Regions from separate parts of the Homo sapiens genome. Here region 2 is linked to region 1. A link means that fine-mapping ties the variant in region 1 to the expression of a gene that starts in the linked region. Tissue or cell type: whole blood. Region 1 holds a variant in brackets; the other region holds the start of a gene. All regions are shown on one strand. Distances are between the middles of the regions.

Region 1 (8,069 bases):
CTCGCCTTTCCAGCCTGCCCGTCCTTCTCTTCCAGGGGCAAGTGCAGCGTCACCCTGCTCAACGAGACCGAGTCGCTCAAGTCCTACCTGGAGCGGGAGGTGAGGCCCAGCCCGGCCTGGTCTGCCGCAGCCAGTCCCGGGCCACTGTTTCCTCTACCTATGACCTCTGCTGGCCTGGGCGGCGGAGACGATTTTCCCTCCTCCCTCTAGGCCCAGGCTGTTCTGGGGGGAAGCGGGGATTGCGTCCTGACTGTCACTTCCAGGTGTCCTGGTGTGTGGCCGCCCCCACCCTACGCGTCCAGAGTTGTGGGCCAGGAGCTTGGAGCTCTTTCCTCTTGCCACTGCCACCCAGACAGCCAGCGAGGGGAGGTCCCCCTGGGGAGGGTGTGGCTGAGGCAGGTGGGGGCAGGGGCCACCTGAGTCTTCGCAGGAGTCTTGGCTGGTCTCTCCTGGGCGGTGGGCAGAGTCCTGGTAGGCCCACCTTGGGGGTCACTGTGATTATACGGTGTTACCAGGTGATTCTTATCTGGGGGTCACCTGTGATTATACGGTGTTAACCTGCCGTATAGCATCCCCCAAGGCGTGACAACCAAAAAATGTGTCCCGACAATGCCATACATCCCTGGGGAGCAGTGTCGCCTGACGGAGAGCGGTGGCACTGAGGCTGCTGTGAGATCCAGCGAACGGGAGGGTTGGGTTTTCTGAGGCCACGTGGGGGCAAAAGCGTCTGGAGTGTGTTGGTTCCCTGGAGTGCCTGTCACAGTTGCGGGGCACACCTGCCAAGGGGCAGGCGCATCTCCAGGCCTAGGGCTTGGCCTCCCACGGGCTCTGCTGCCACCTGGCTGGAGTCTTGTGACCTGAACACCCCCAGCGTGTCCAGTCAGCTCAGATGCAGGTTGCTGGATGCGGCCCCCACCCTGCCCATCCCAGGGGGGCTCATCTCTGTCGTGGCCATCGGCGCTCTGGCATGGGCTCTGAAGGATCCAGGATGGCCACGGTGTGTCCCAAGCTCAGCCCTGCACTACCTCTGTGGCCCCGGTCCCCATTCCCACCACACAGCCTGGAAACAGGCGTGAAGGGCGACAGTGGCTCAGCTAGGGCTGTGGTCGTGCCTTAGCTCAGAGTCATGAGCAGGCAGAGAAGAGCAGGCAGGGCTTGGCCTGGGGTCGTAACACATGCGTGGAGCATGGGCAGGGCTCGAACCCTCTCAGGCTGCCAGACCAGCTTCCCAGAAGGCTGAGCCACAACATGCTGGGCGGGAGCAGAGGCTGTGGGGGTCGCTGTGAAGGCTTCCACTCAGGAATGAGGAGTGCCCTTATTGACAGAGCCACACAGAGAGGGTGAGACTGCAGAAATGTATCTGTGGGCACAGAAAATGTTTGTTAGCAAAAAAGGCCCGTGAGGAAGCAGCAGGTGCAGTGACAAGCCTGTCTGCACTGTGTCCGCCCAGAAACGGCCGGGTCCATGCTTGCCGGGGACAAAACAGGCTGCTCAGGCACCCTGAAACCCTCCTGCTGCACGATGCAGCCCTTCCCCCCTTTTTCTTTTTCTTTTTTTGTTTTTTTTTTTTTTTTTTTTTTTTGAGACAGAGTTTCGCTCTTGTTGCCCAGGCTGGAGTACAGTGGCGCGATCTCAGCTCACTGCAACCTCCGCCTCCCGGGTTCAAGCGATTCTCCTGTCTCAGCCTCCCGAGTAGCTGGGATTACAGACGTGTGTCACCATGTCCGGCTAATTTTTTGTATTTTTAGTAGAAATGGGGTTTCACCATGTTAGCCGGGCTGGTCTCAAACTCCTGACCTCAGGTGATCATCCCGCCTCTGCCTCCCGAACTGTTGGGATTACAGGCATGAGCCACTGCGCCCAGCCACTTCCCTCTTCTTTCTTACCTGGGGTTTCTGAACAGCCCCAATATGGGAATTTAATGTAACAGGCTCAGGGTGAGTACACTTAGCACCTGGCAGAAGCTTGTGCCACTGGCCCCTGGGCGATCGTGCCCCTGCCTCGCCTCAAATAACCCTCACTGATGAAGTCCTGATAAACACAGGCTCATGTCACAGATAAGCAAGAGTGCAGAAACAGCACACAGCAGTCACAGACACACCCAGGCCCTGACCAGTGGCGCAGTCCGGCACCAAATAGAAACCACTTGTGTTTATTAATTTAAAGAAACAGGCCGGGTACAGTGGCTCATGCCTGTAATCCCAGCACTTTGGGAGGCCAAGGCCGGGGGAATCACTTGAGCTCAGGAGTTCAAGAGCAGCCTGGGCATCATAGTGAGACCTCACCTCTACAAAAGTAAAAAACATTAGCCAGGCGTGGTGGTGCACACTTACTGTTGTCCCAGCTACTCAGGAGGCTGAGGTGGGAGGATTGCTTGAGTCAAGAGGCGGAGGCTTCACTGAAGCAAGATCGCACCACTGTACTCTATCTTGGGTGATAGAGCAAGACCCTATCTCCAAAAAAAATAAAAGATCCAGGCAGAGTAGGAGCTGAGGCTGAGGCTGGCAGCTGGCCTCTGGATAGTCGTGTCAGTTCAAGAGGACGAAGGCCCTGAAGCATGGCTCGTGGTCACACATGGAGCAGGTGTCATGCTGGACTTTAAAGGTAGCTCTTGAAAGAAAACACGCAGAGTAGCTTTCAGAATAGGAGAGACAGGGAAAGCGGGTAAGGGCTGGAAAAGACGACCCACAGGAATCAGGAGGATGACCTGGAAACGGGAGGGTGATTGGACGCCAGGCACACATGCAGAAGAAAGTGCAGCCCTGGCTGAGGCCAGGTGCTCAGGCTGGGACTCCAGGGTCAGGCCCGGACAGGCCTGCTTCAAAAATCATCAGAACCAGCCCAGTGCAGGACACACAATGCCGGACAGCAAAAGGTTGGCAAAGGCCATGTCCTGGAAATGCCATCCCAGAGGCAGCCTGGGGGCCCTGGTGTGAGGTTGCCTGAGATGGAATGCTGGCGGGAAGGGCCGCGCCTGCTGCGCGGGTGGCGGCCGGCGGTGCTGAGCCTGGAATGCTCCGTAGCGCTCCAGCGGTGGCCGCTCCTCCAAGGTTGTGCCCAGAACTCCTGATTTCTGTTGCTCTTAAACACCTTGGATAAGTTACATCTTCACATTGCTGCTGCTGATAGGGATGGCTTTGTAGCCGGGCATAGCACACGCCTGTAGTCTCAACTACTTGGAGGCTGAGGTGGGAGGATCACTTGAACCCAGGAGGCGGAGGCCACAGTGAGCTGTGATTGCACTGCTGCACTCCAGCCTGGGCGACGGAGCGAGACCATGTTTCGAAAAAGGAAAATAAGTCTGCTGGGCGCAGTGGCTGACGCCAGTAATTCCAGCACTTTGGGAGGCCGAGGCGGGTGGATCACCTGAGCTCAGGAGTTTGAGAACAGCCTGGCCAACATGGTGAAACTCTGTCTCTACTGAAAATACAAAATATTAGCTAGGTGTGGTGGTGGGCACCTGTAATCCCAGCTACTTGGAAGGCTGAGGCAGGAGAATTGCTTGAACCCGGGAAACGGAGGTTGCAGTGAGCCGAGATCACGCCATTGCACTCCAACCTGGGCGACAAGAGCGAAACTCTGCCTCAAAAAAATAAAAAGGCAAATAAGTCATGGTTTTTGGGCTGTAGCCGTATCCACCCTGCCTTGGTAAAGGCTTGTGGAGCCTGGCCCCACCCCTGCAGCTGCTCATTGGCCCTGCCTCTGCTGACCCTCGGCATGTCTCCTCCGTGCAGTGTCATGGGGCAGGTGCATCCCCCAGTGACCCTCGAGGCCCCGCTGTAGGCTCCTCCCAGGCATGGCCGGGAGCTGTGGGGGCTCCTGCGCCCTCCCTCCCTCCTGCGCCCATGTCGCCCCACAAGAGCTCTGGGCAAGACCCTCCCAGCAGCCCGGCCGTGCTGACGCCTCTCTGACCCTCCCAGCAGCCTGACTGTGCTGACGCCTCTCTGTCTCCTGTGGTGTTTTCCAGGATTTCTTCTTCTATTCTCTAGTCTACGACCCACAGCAGAAGACCCTGCTGGCAGATAAAGGAGAGATTCGAGTAGGAAACCGGTACCAGGCAGACATCACCGACTTGTTAAAAGAAGGTAGGGTGGGCCGCCCTGGGCATGGAGCCCTCTGTCCTGTCCTGTCCTGCCGGGTGACACACTGGGTGAGAGGAGGCTGGGACATGGCCGTGTCAGTGATTCATGTGTGACTGGGGGCGGCAGGTGTAGGCCTGGGCTCTGTCCACATGGGTGATGCGTGTAGGCTGGTGTCCCGGAGCCTTCCCCCACCCACTCCTGGTGGTGTTGGGGTTCTGGGGAAGCCTCAGACCCTCAGGCAGGACGTGGTGATCAGCTGTCCTTGCACAGTGACACCTGGTTTCCTTCTGGCAGTTGTTTTTCTTTTTCTTTTTTTTCAGACGGAGTCTCGCTCTGTTGCCCAGGCTGGAGTGCAGTGGGGTGATCTCGGCTCACTGCAACCTCCGCCTCCCAGGTTCAAGCGATTCTCCTGCCTCAGCCTCCCGAGTAGCTGGGATTACAGGCGCCCGCCATCACGCCCGGCTAATTTTTTTATTTTTAGTAGAGACGGGGTTTCACCGTGTTGGCCACGTTGGTCTTGAACTCTTGACCTCAGGCCTCCCAAGGTGCTGGGATTACAGGCGTGAGCCACCGAGTCTGGCCTTGGCAGTTATTTTTCATTACTTTTTCTTTTTTTTGGACAAGGTCTGGCTCTGTCGCCCAGGCTGGAATGCAGTGGTGCAATCACAGCTCACTGCAGCCTCGACCTCCCAGGCTCAGATGATCCTCCCACCTCAGCCTCCTCAGTAGCTGGAACTACAGGGGCACCACCACACCCCCCTAGTTTTTTTGTATTTTTATTAGAGACAGGGTTTCGCCATGTTGCCCAGGTTGGTCTCAAACCCCTGAACTCAAGTGATCTACCTGCTTCGACCTCCCAAACTGCTGGGATTACATGTGTGAG[C/T]CACTGCACCTGGCCTCATTTTTTAAAGTTCTTTTTGCCTCCAGAAATTTTCTTCTGTGTGAATCTGCCCACGTTTCTTGTCTTGCCTGTGGGTGCCCCACCCTTGAGGCCTGCTGGGGCCGTGGAGCTCCGACGCAGTGCTCACCCCGGATGCTGGCAGCCTCCTCCCTCCACCGGGTGCTTCGGTAGCCCTGGTGGGAGGTCCTGGGGCTCACTGTCCCCTTCTCAGCCCTGTCCCTCATCTCCCCGCTGGGCAAGGCCGCGAGGCTGCCCTCGAGACGCAGGGCTCTGCCCCCGAGGGTGGGCGGGGACTCGCCTCCCTGCTTGCAGTTGTGATCAAGGCGTTTCGTGCTTGTCCTGTTTTGGTTTGTTTTGAGAGCGGGTCTTGCTGTGTCGCCCAGGCTGGACTTGAAGTCCTAGGCCCCAGCGATCCTCAAGCCTCAGCCTCCCGAGTAGCTGGTGCTGTTTCGTGTTCTTCTTGATTGTCCGTAAGGTGCTGGTGCGTCTCACAGGTGGCTGGGTGTGCCACCTCCTCCAGGCAGCTGTGGGCTCCAGCATTGGGCTCGTGGGCCTGCTACATTGCAAGCATCTGTGCTCTGGGAGGTGCTTGGCAGTGGGGGAAGACCCCCACATCTCTCCAGGCAGACAGGGCACATTGAGGGCTGGGCCTGGGGAGGAGGCCTCTGTGCTGAGGCCTGTGGGTCGGAGCCTGGGGAGGCCGCTGTGCTGGAGCCCGGCCTGTGGGTCTAAGTGTGGGGAAGTCACTGTGCTGAGGCCTGTGGGTCTGAGTGTGGAGAGGCCGCTGTGCTGAGGCCTGTGGGTCTGAGTGTGGAGAGGCCACTGTGCTGGGGCCCGGCCTGTGGGTCTGAGCATGGGGAGGCCGCTGTGCTGGGTCTGGGCCTGTGGCCTCCAGGGTGCCCTGCTATCATGCCAGGGTCTCCCAGCCTGGGGCTGTCTTGCCTTTCTGGCCTGGCCAAAGGTGAAGGCCTGGCAGCCGCACCCAGGTGGAAAGGCAGAGTCCGTGGCTGGGAGACAGGTGAGAACACAGATCACATGAGGGCCAGAGAGTGAGGAGCTGTCTCAGGTCAGAGGCCCTCAGCTGGCGCATCTGTACCTTCAGCCTGGGGCCAGTGGGCCTGTCAGGAGAATGGGCCTTGAGGTGCCCCCATCTTACCATGCACACCTGGAGAGACCTGGCGGAGCTCTGCAGGGTCTGGGGCGATGGGACTAAGGGTCCACAAGGCCGAGCCAGCCGCAGGAGCCGGCCTCCTCTCCCCACGCTGCCTTCCCCGCTGCCCTGCCGTTCCTTGGCTTTTGGGCCGCTGGTGCAAGGACCAGGGATCCCACCAGCTGGTGTGGGGCCGGGACGTGGCGTCCAGAGCTTTCCCCACCTCCGAGAGGCTGTGTCCCTCTTGAGTGATGGAAAATTGCACACTAGTTGTGCACCTGCCTTTAGTGAGTTTGAAATGTCAAAGGGAGTGCGACCATCATGACCAGCAGTGCGCATACACGGAGGCACCATGGCTTGTGTGGGTCACACCAAGGCTCAGCTTCTTGGCCGTCAGGGAGCTAGGCCCCAGCTTCCCCAGGGTACCCCTGAGCCAGGTGAGGAGTCCACACCAGGCTGAAGACCCCCCAGCCCGCCTTGCTGGTTCACACAGCCCCAGTCCCTGGCTGACCCCGTCCTCTGAGTCTGGCCAGGCATTGTTTCCTAGAGGCCGCATGGCCTGACCCTCCCTGGACACATGGCCCAGGATGTCCGGCCCTTGGGGCAGGGTCTGGGAGCCAGTGCCCCTTAGCGAGGGATAGCATTTTCTTGGGGACTTTCTAGTCTCAAGAGCTCTCTCCATGCTGGACCTGCAGCCGGGCGCCCCAGTGGAGGGCAGCCCCGCACTCCGTGGTCCTTGGTCTGGAACCTCGGTGCTGCCCAGGGCTGGAGGGGAGCTGCTTGCAGAGTCTGAGCCTGGCACCCTGCACTGAGCTATGGAGGCGGCTGAGAGGTGGACAGAGGACAATTGTGGAGCTCTTTCTCCAAGTCCTCCCCCAGGAGTCAGGCTCAGCCATGCTCAGACACACATTCTCCTGAGGGTGTCTCCCAACACCACGGTCTTGTTTTTTGGCGAGTAAAAGGCTGTTTCGTCAGAAACCCTCCTGGCCCTGGCCGACTGCAGGCGTCAGGTGGCCTCTTCACCAGCCTTGAGTTCTCCATCGTCCCAGCTCCCAGAAGACAGGAAACAACTGGTGACTCCAGAGGCACGCCCACTCCCTGGCCCCCGGCTCTGGCTGTGCCAGGCTTAGCCGCAGCTGCCCCAGAACCCCCTGGGGTGGAAGAGGGGCCAGGAGGGAGCCTGTGCCCCCAGAAGGTCCCTGGAGGTGGTCTGCCTGCTGCTGTGACGTGGCAGGGCCCTCTTGCAACAGCATGTGAACCCAAGTATCTCAAAATAAAAAGCTTGGGCCGGGCACGGTGGCTCACGCCTATGATCCCAACACTTTGGGAGGCTAAGGCGGATGGATCACCTGAGGTCAAGAGTTCGAGACCAGCCTGGGCAACATGGTGAAACCCCGTGTCTACTGAAAATACAAAAATTAGCTGGGCATGGTGTCGGTGCCTGTGGTCCCAGCTACTCAGGAGGCTGAGGCAGGAGAATCGCTTGAACCTGGGAGGCGGAGGTTGTAGTGAGCCAAGATCGTACCACTGTATTCCAGCCTGGGCGACAGAGTGAGACTCCGTCTCAAAAAATAATAATAATAATAATAATAATATAAATAAATAAATAAAAAGGCTTGATTTAAATTTACAAACCAACCTTCCCATCTCTTGTGGCCACAGTTCTTGGAGCCCTGCATTCTGGGTGGGCTGGGAGGCCCCTTGCGTGTGCACCCCAGCCCCGGGTTGAGAGGCCACTGTGTGCCTGTGTGTGCAACAGCCTCCGTCCAGCCTTGCACCCTGGCCTCACCTATGGGGCCCTGCAGCCCTTCCCCCTCCCCGTCCCAGCAGCTCCCCGCACCCGGGGAGGAGAGGCGCGGCCCGGCGCGCCGTGGGACCCCGTCTCAGAAAGGCCACACTTCCTCCCTGTAGGCGAGGAGGATGGCCGAGACCAGTC
Region 2 (8,069 bases), 210 kb before region 1:
GGCAGGTGGATTGCCTGAGCTCAGAAGTTTGAAACCAGCCCGGGCAACACAGCGAAACCCCGTCTCTACTAAAAAATACAAAAAATTAGCCGGGCATGGTGGCAAGTGCCTGTAATCCCAGCTACTCAGGAGACTGAGACAGGAGAATCACTTGAACCTGGGAGGTGGAGGTTGCAGTGAGCTGAGATCGTGCCACTGCACTCCAGCCTGAGTGACAGAGCAAGACTCCATCTCAAAAAAAATAAATAAATAAATAAAGGAAGCAATGAAATTAATGAACTAAAATAACAGAAAACTAAAAATTAACAAAATTAATTATTTAAAGTAGGCAAAGGGACTAATAAGAAAAAGAAGCAAATAAATTACCACTGTCAAGAAAAGAATTAAAAAGTCCAACAGCCAGTATGGTGCTGACATAAAGACAGACCTACAGACCAACAGAACAGAACAGGACAGGACAGGACAGGACAGGACAGCACAGGGCCAGAAATGACAATGACAGACAGATGACCTTCAACAAGGGTGACAAGAACTTCTTGCACAATGGGGAAAGGATGGTCTCTTCAATATGCAGCGCTGGGAAAACTGGATATCCACTTGCAAATAAAGATAGACCCTTACCTTACATCATACACAAAAACTAACTCAAAACCGATGCAAGACCCAAACACAGACTTGAAACTGTAAAACCCTTAGAAGAAAACAAAGGGAAAGACTTCACGACATTGGTCTTGGCAATGATTTCTTGAACATGACACCAACAGCAAGGGCAACGAAAGTAAAAATAGACAAATGGGATGACCTCAAACTAAAAAGTTTCTGCACAGCAAAGGAATCTATTAACAGAAATGATATCCTATAGAATGGAAGAGACTATGTGCAAACCATCTATCTCATAAGGGGTTAACAGCCTGAATATACAAAAAACTCCAACTCAGGAACAAAATCGATTAAAAATGGGCAAACTGCACTTTTGTAATCCCAGCTCTTTGGGAGGCTGAGGCACAAGAATCGCTTGAACCTGGAAGGCGGATGTTGCAGTGCACCCTCACCACCGCACTCCAGCCTGGGCAACGGAGTAAGACTCTGTCTCAAAAAAAAAAGGCAAAGCCCTTGAACAGACGTTTCTCCAAACACGCCATGCAAATAGCCAACAAGCACATGAGTAGATGGTCAACATCATTATTTATCAGGGACATGCAAATCAAAACCACATGACACTACCTCATGTCCATTAGGATGACCATTATCACAAACAAAAAAGAATAGGCTGGGCGCGGTGGCTCACACCTGTAATCCCAGCACTTTGGGAGGCCTAGGCAGGTAGATCACTTGAGGCCAGGAGTTTAAGACCAGCCTGGTCAACGGAGTCTCGCTCTGTCATCCAGGCTGGAGTGCAGTAGCATGATCTCAGCTCACTGCAACCTCCGCCTCCCTGGTTCGAGCCATTCTCCTTCCTTGGCCTCCCGAATAGCTGGGATTACAGGTGCCCGTTAATTTTTGTATTTTTAGTAGAGATGGGGTTTCACCATGTTGGCCAGGCTGGTCTCAAACTCCTGACCTCAAGTGATCCGCCCACCTTGGCCTCCCAAAGTGCTGGGATTACAGGCGTGAGCCACCGCGCCCAACCTACACTGTAACATATTTAAAAATCAAAGTGCAAAGGGTGGTTTCTTTCTAAGGATGAAAATTATTATTCACATGCTCCACACCACCATGCAGATCAAGACGCTGACTACCTCTGGCGGCTCAGCAATTCTATCCTGGCACCCCCGGAGACAGCTGTCGCCCAGGTCTTGTGTGCTGCTGTAAGTTATTCCTTCTCACTGCATTCCCCAAATGGACCCACCACAACCTGCTGATCCTTTCTGTTGCTGATGGACATGTAGGCTGTCTCCACTCTGGCCATTTGTATTTCTCCTGGAAACTGCTTATGCCCGTTACCTTTTTCTATGGAAACAGACGGCTGGGACAGAAACCACGGCCACAGCAGCCAGCGTGTCTTTGCCAGTGGGGTCCCACACTATGAAATCGCAGCTGTGGCCTCGGTGGGTGTGTCCTTGGCGGGTGCATCCACACACTTTCTCTCGGAACTTTCCGGACTCTCATGCATATGCTACAGCTTTCCAAACGGCTTGGCCGTGCGGAGTTACGCACCCACCTGCAGCAGGTGATCTCCAGCTGCTCTGCATTCCACCAACACTACGTGACAAGTCTCAAGTTCAGCCGCCTGGGGGCTCGGGCACCCCATTCCTGGGAGAAATGATGATTTGTGCACTCTGGGCCATTGCATGGTGTCTGTTCACGTCCTTTGCCCGTTTTTTAAAAAACTGGGTTGTCAGCCTTTTCCTTCCTGACTTGTAGTTGCTCCTCCATCCTGGAGAGTCCTTTGTTGAAAATACCGCAAATATCTTCTGAAGAGGACTCTCCCAGGGAACATTCACTACAACTGTAACGACCACAGAGACACAGAGCTCCTGTTCACTGTTTAGCCCAGGACTGCGGTGACAGGTGCACCCATGACCCGAGATGCTGGCTGCGTCCTGTGGGGTTTCCTGCATATGGAAGTTTTAAAAGTCTAAAGCCTGGCGGTCCAGGAGGTTGCGTGTGTGTCCTCGGGGAGGAACCCTCCTGACAGCCAGGCCTCTGGAGCTTCGTCTGCACGCGAGCTTGGCATGCACCAGCTGTGCGGCCCAGGCCAGGTGACACGGCCTCTGAAGTCTGGTCTCCTCATCAGCAAAGCCAGTGCCCCATGCCACGCACCTCCCAGGATTAGCCCCAGGCCGGGAGGCTAGAGGCCCCACAAGGAGCGAGCCTGCGACTGCGATCCACAGGCAGAGCCACAGAGGCAGGGCGCGCCCTGGGGCCCAAGCTCCAGGGCTGCAGGCCCAGGGCCAGATCCTGACTTGCCCACCCGCCGGCTGTGTGACCTTCAGCGCGCGACTAACCTCTCTGTGCCTATTTCCTCGAGGAAAATGCCGGGAAATAGCAGCGCCTGCCCCTGTAAAGCCCTCAGAGCAGAGTGGACCGCGCTCTCTGCAAGCGCTGGCTGCTGGCGTCCGTAGCAAGCTAAATCGCGAAGCATCTGAACGAACGAGGAAGCCCAACGACCATCCCACAGGCCGCGGCCAGAGGCAGACTCCGGAATGCAAATGGCCAAACAAGCAGGTCCACCTGCGTTCCTAACCAAAAGATCGCTAACTGAAGAACGGGCGCAAGCACCTGCGCATGGCACTGCGGGTCTGGGGGCGGCCGCCTGCCAGCGCCGGGAGCCGCCTTCCACGGCTACCTCTGCACAGCGCGCGGCTCGCGCCGGTTGCTGGGCAGAAGCTCGAGCAGCTTCGAGGATGTCGGGCCTGGGGGCGGGGCCGCGAGGCAGCGACGTCGCGCGGGGCGCGGCCCTGACGCAGCGTGACGCACCGGCGCCGCGGCGGGTACGGGCTCGGGCGGGCGGGCGGGCGGGACGGCGCCCCCCGCGGCCGGGCCTGGCCGGGCTGCGCTAGGCTGGGCTCGGGCAGGGTCGCAGGGGCGGGGGTGGCAGGGGAGCGGGTGGCAGCCCCGCGGGTCACAGCGCCGCCGCCGCCCATGCTGCTGCCCCTAGCCTGCCTGCACGGCCGCGTCGCTCAGTGCCTGACCTCCTTGCTTTTGCTTGCAGAGCCGCTCCCGAGGCCCCGGCGCGGCGCGAGGGCGCGGGGCGCGGCGTCCACAGGCGCCGAGGCTGCCCCCGCCGCCCCGCCCGCGAAGATGGCGGCGGAACTCTACGCTCCCGCCAGCGCCGCGGCCGCGGACCTAGCCAACAGCAACGCCGGCGCCGCCGTGGGCAGGAAGGCCGGGCCGCGCAGCCCGCCCAGCGCCCCCGCGCCAGCGCCGCCGCCGCCCGCGCCCGCGCCGCCCACACTCGGCAACAACCACCAGGAGAGCCCCGGCTGGCGGTGCTGCCGCCCCACGCTGCGCGAGAGGTGAGCCCGTGCCCCGCGGCCCCCGCGCCCGCGCGCGCCCACGCCCCCAGCCCGTGCCTCTACCTTTGCAGGAACGCGCTCATGTTCAACAACGAGCTCATGGCCGACGTGCACTTCGTCGTGGGGCCCCCGGGGGCGACCAGGACGGTGCCCGCCCACAAGGTGGGTAGCGGCGGCCCCTCTCGGAACGCGTGCCCCGTCCGCCCCGTCCGCCGTGTGGCTGACACGCAGCCTGCGGGAGAGCCAGGCTCACGGCGGCGCTTTCTCCTCCCAGTACGTCTTGGCTGTCGGCAGCTCCGTCTTCTATGCCATGTTCTACGGAGACCTGGCGGAAGTCAAATCTGAAATTCACATTCCAGACGTGGAGCCCGCAGCCTTTCTGATCCTCTTAAAGTAAGTCCACTCTACTGGGGAGGGACGGGTGGGTCCGTTTTAGGCGGCCTCCGGAGGCTTCTGAAGGGAAGCACACAGGAGCTGATGGACTCCTCTCCCAGGCCCAGCCCCGCGATGGGTGCTTGGGAGCCAGCCCCTGACGCGGGCCCTGCCTCGCCTAGGTACATGTACAGTGATGAGATCGATCTGGAAGCCGACACGGTGCTGGCCACTCTGTACGCTGCTAAGAAGTACATCGTCCCAGCATTGGCAAAAGCCTGTGTCAACTTTCTGGAGACAAGTTTGGAAGCCAAGAACGCCTGCGTCCTGCTGTCCCAGAGCCGGCTGTTTGAGGAGCCCGAGCTGACGCAGCGCTGCTGGGAGGTCATTGACGCACAGGCCGAGATGGCCCTACGGTCCGAAGGCTTCTGTGAGATAGACCGGCAGACGCTGGAGATCATTGTCACTCGGGAGGCCCTCAACACCAAAGAGGCGGTGGTCTTCGAGGCCGTCCTGAACTGGGCCGAGGCGGAGTGCAAGAGGCAGGGGCTGCCAATCACCCCACGAAACAAGAGGCATGTTCTGGGGCGAGCCCTCTATCTGGTCCGAATTCCAACCATGACCCTAGAGGAGTTTGCCAACGGCGCTGCCCAGTCAGACATCCTGACTCTGGAGGAGACCCACAGCATCTTCCTGTGGTACACGGCCACCAACAAGCCCCGCCTGGACTTTCCCCTGACCAAGAGGAAGGGCCTCGCCCCGCAGAGGTGCCACCGATTCCAGTCTTCTGCCTACCGCAGCAACCAGTGGCGGTACCGCGGGCGCTGCGACAGCATCCAGTTTGCAGTGGACAGAAGGGTATTTATTGCAGGGCTGGGCCTGTATGGCTCCAGCTCTGGGAAGGCTGAGTACAGCGTGAAGATTGAGCTCAAGCGGCTCGGGGTGGTTCTGGCTCAGAACTTGACCAAGTTCATGTCAGACGGATCCAGTAACACCTTCCCGGTCTGGTTTGAACACCCGGTCCAGGTTGAACAAGACACCTTCTACACGGCCAGTGCCGTCCTGGACGGCAGCGAACTCAGCTACTTTGGGCAGGAGGGGATGACGGAAGTGCAGTGTGGAAAGGTGGCCTTCCAGTTCCAGTGCTCCTCGGACAGCACCAACGGGACTGGGGTCCAGGGTGGGCAGATCCCTGAGCTCATTTTCTATGCCTGAGGTGCCCGGGGAGGCTGCAGCAGGTCAGCGAGTGAGTGGAGGGGAAGTCAAGATGCTAACTGCTTCTTGACACCATGAAAGGCTGCTCTTAACTTTGTCTCTCTTTGACATGTAGTCAGCTGAAGCTTGACTGTGTAGAGACATTTTCCACACAGCCAGAACCCAGGGATTGGAGTCTTAGGCATCTCTGGTACAGTGGGGTGCACGTCTCAGGTGGAGGAAGATTTACGGCTCAAGACAGGCCCCAGATCCCCTCCCAGTGGCACCCATGCCACCTGCTTTGAGGGGTTGGATCTTCCTGCTACCCTCTTGGATTCTAAGTGGTTCCAAGCTTAACTTGAGACCTTCCCTTCAAATCTAAAATTGGCAAAAAGTCACTTAAAATAGTGGACTTCTGTAATAAAGGTTGCCTAAAATAACACCCACGTGTCAGTAAATGACTACAGCAGTTGTACAGTGGGGTATTCTCTTTCTCATGCAACAGAACAGCTCCCTCCCATCCCGAGGAGAAAACCTGTCATGCTGAACATGCTATGTGGTTAGGAGCAAACTGCGCCCCAGTGAAGCCCATCTGTCCCCTGGGTTGCTGGCTGGCTTCTGGGCCACCCTAGGAAACACCAGGTGCCTGGTTGTCTCTATGTCCTAATGCATCACTAGCACCTCAGAGTCCTACCCTATGAACAGACTGTCGGGGGAGCATTCTGCTGGGCCCAGCGTTCTGGACCCTGGGGACTGTCACTAGCTGTGACACTGCTGCGGGACAGCCTGTTGCAGGAGTGGACTATAGGGTGAAACAGGCTCTCCCACCCCTTGTCTCTCTCCTCCCACTCTGCATACCCTGTAGGCAGTTGTTTTCTGGAAAACCTGTATGACCCCCGAAAAGAGGGATGGCCCCTCTTGGCACCTGGGAGAGGGCATGGGCCGAGTGTATAGCCTCAGCCGGTGCCCCTCTGCTGCTGCAGCCCGTGTTGCTCAGTCCTGTTGGTGACCCAGCCCCACCTGGTGCTTCTCTACCCAAAGGACATACGCTCCTAGATGCAAACAGGCAAAGTAAGAAAGGGGCCTCTAAGCGGGCCATGGAAACCAGTCATCTGCTTGGTAAAGAAAGGGTAGGTCAGAACCATCGGGCAGTGAGTGCTGTTTTGATCCTTTCCTTCTAGACTTTTCCGCTAGGTTAGATTCTGCATGCATGAACACTGCTGCTGCCTCGAGGGAGAGACAGGACTTACCCTACACCTAACACACATCAAGAAAGGCATACAGGAGTTCCACAAACTCGCACACAACACAGAACAAAAGTGGCAGAAAAACCACAAAAGAGGGCTGTGGCTGGAAAGCACAACCAGGAGCTGCCCCACTGTCCCCATCTGTCCAGAGGCACCTGGAGCCAGGTGTGTCCCTTAAACCTTGTCCACACAAGATGCTCCCAGCACGCAGCACTTGTTTCCCTGTCTACACCTTCCTGCCACCTGACAGGCACTGACAACAGGCCTTCTGGTTTTGCAGCAGAAAGCAAGCCCCAGGCCAGGTGCGGTCTCATGCCTGTAATCCCAGTGCTTTGGGAGGCGAAGGCACGAGGATCACTTGAGGCCAGGAGTTTGAGGCTGCAGTGAGCTACGATTGTGCCACTGCACTCCAGCCTGGACAACAGCGAGACTGTGTCTTAGAAAATAAGGCCCCACATTACTGAGCTCCTAGCAGCTTTAAGAAACATTTCTTACCTTGAGGGGTCCCATGCTTGGACAGGATTTCCCTCCACTGTTCAAAGGACATTTGGCACGCTGGTCCCTACAGCAGCCTGCCGGACACCCCAGCATCTCACCCAGATGCCTACCTATGGCCGGCGCATTGATGCAGAGCTCTCTTGCCAAGAGAAGAAACGTCTTTCCAAGCACGTACACATTCACCTGAGATGGAGAGATCACAACCAGAAACAGCATTGGTATTTAAGGAAATGTTTGCTTTTTTTCTCTTAAAATGCATCTCTTGTGCAGTCTTTAAAGACTCCGATGGCCCGTGGAGCAGCCACCCCACACCCGCAAGCCTGGCTGGCCTCCCTTGGCTGCTGGGGCTCCCAGGGCCCTGCCTTCTTCCTCTAAGCCGCTGCTTTAGGCCGTGCTGCCGTCTCGCCAATGATGGCATCTGCTTAGAAGAAAACCTGACTGCAAGGTTCCTCCCAGGGCGTCATCACACGGTGCACGCAGCATTTCATTCACAACTGCACACCCATGAACACAAAACCAGTTCTGTCCACATGTGCTCCCACCAGCCACACCTCCAGCCCAGATTCCGATGGGCCCAGGGGTCTTGGCCTCAGCCCCCTTGCTGGGACTGAGATCTGTGTTCCTCAGTGACTCCCCTGCCCCCCACACTGTTCCTACCTTAGGTCCAAATCCACACAGATCCTGTCACCCCTGCCTCGGCTATCTGCCATAGGGCAGTGGAGGTGAGGCCCAGACCGAGAAGGGCAACGCCGAGGGCTGGCAGTGATGGGAGCACCGCTGCTTGTCCTCAGCAAAACAA

What was found. PIP is the estimated chance that this variant, and not a neighbour inherited with it, causes the effect.
Region 2: BTBD6 starts here. The variant in region 1 is fine-mapped to the expression of BTBD6 in whole blood (TOPMed, PIP 0.95).

The regions. Positions count from the first base shown.
Region 1 is chr14:105,450,226-105,458,294 of GRCh38, forward strand. It overlaps MTA1 (metastasis associated 1), which reads left to right. Exons shown (of 21, transcript NM_004689.4): 6 at 36-99; 7 at 3,968-4,085; 8 at 8,045-8,069. Among named protein-coding and RNA genes, the nearest start is that of CRIP2, 21 kb to the right of the region's middle. The variant C/T (reference allele first, on the strand shown) is at 4,966.
Region 2 is chr14:105,245,127-105,253,195 of GRCh38, forward strand. BTBD6 (BTB domain containing 6) reads left to right here and starts at 3,407. Exons shown (of 4, transcript NM_001387567.1): 1 at 3,407-3,959; 2 at 4,031-4,121; 3 at 4,234-4,352; 4 at 4,514-5,967. The coding sequence starts at 3,586. The coding sequence ends at 5,546. BRF1 (BRF1 general transcription factor IIIB subunit) reads right to left here. Exons shown (of 18, transcript NM_001519.4): 5 at 7,381-7,453. RefSeq lists enhancers at 3,033-3,823, 4,615-5,404 and silencers at 3,199-3,758, 3,959-4,008.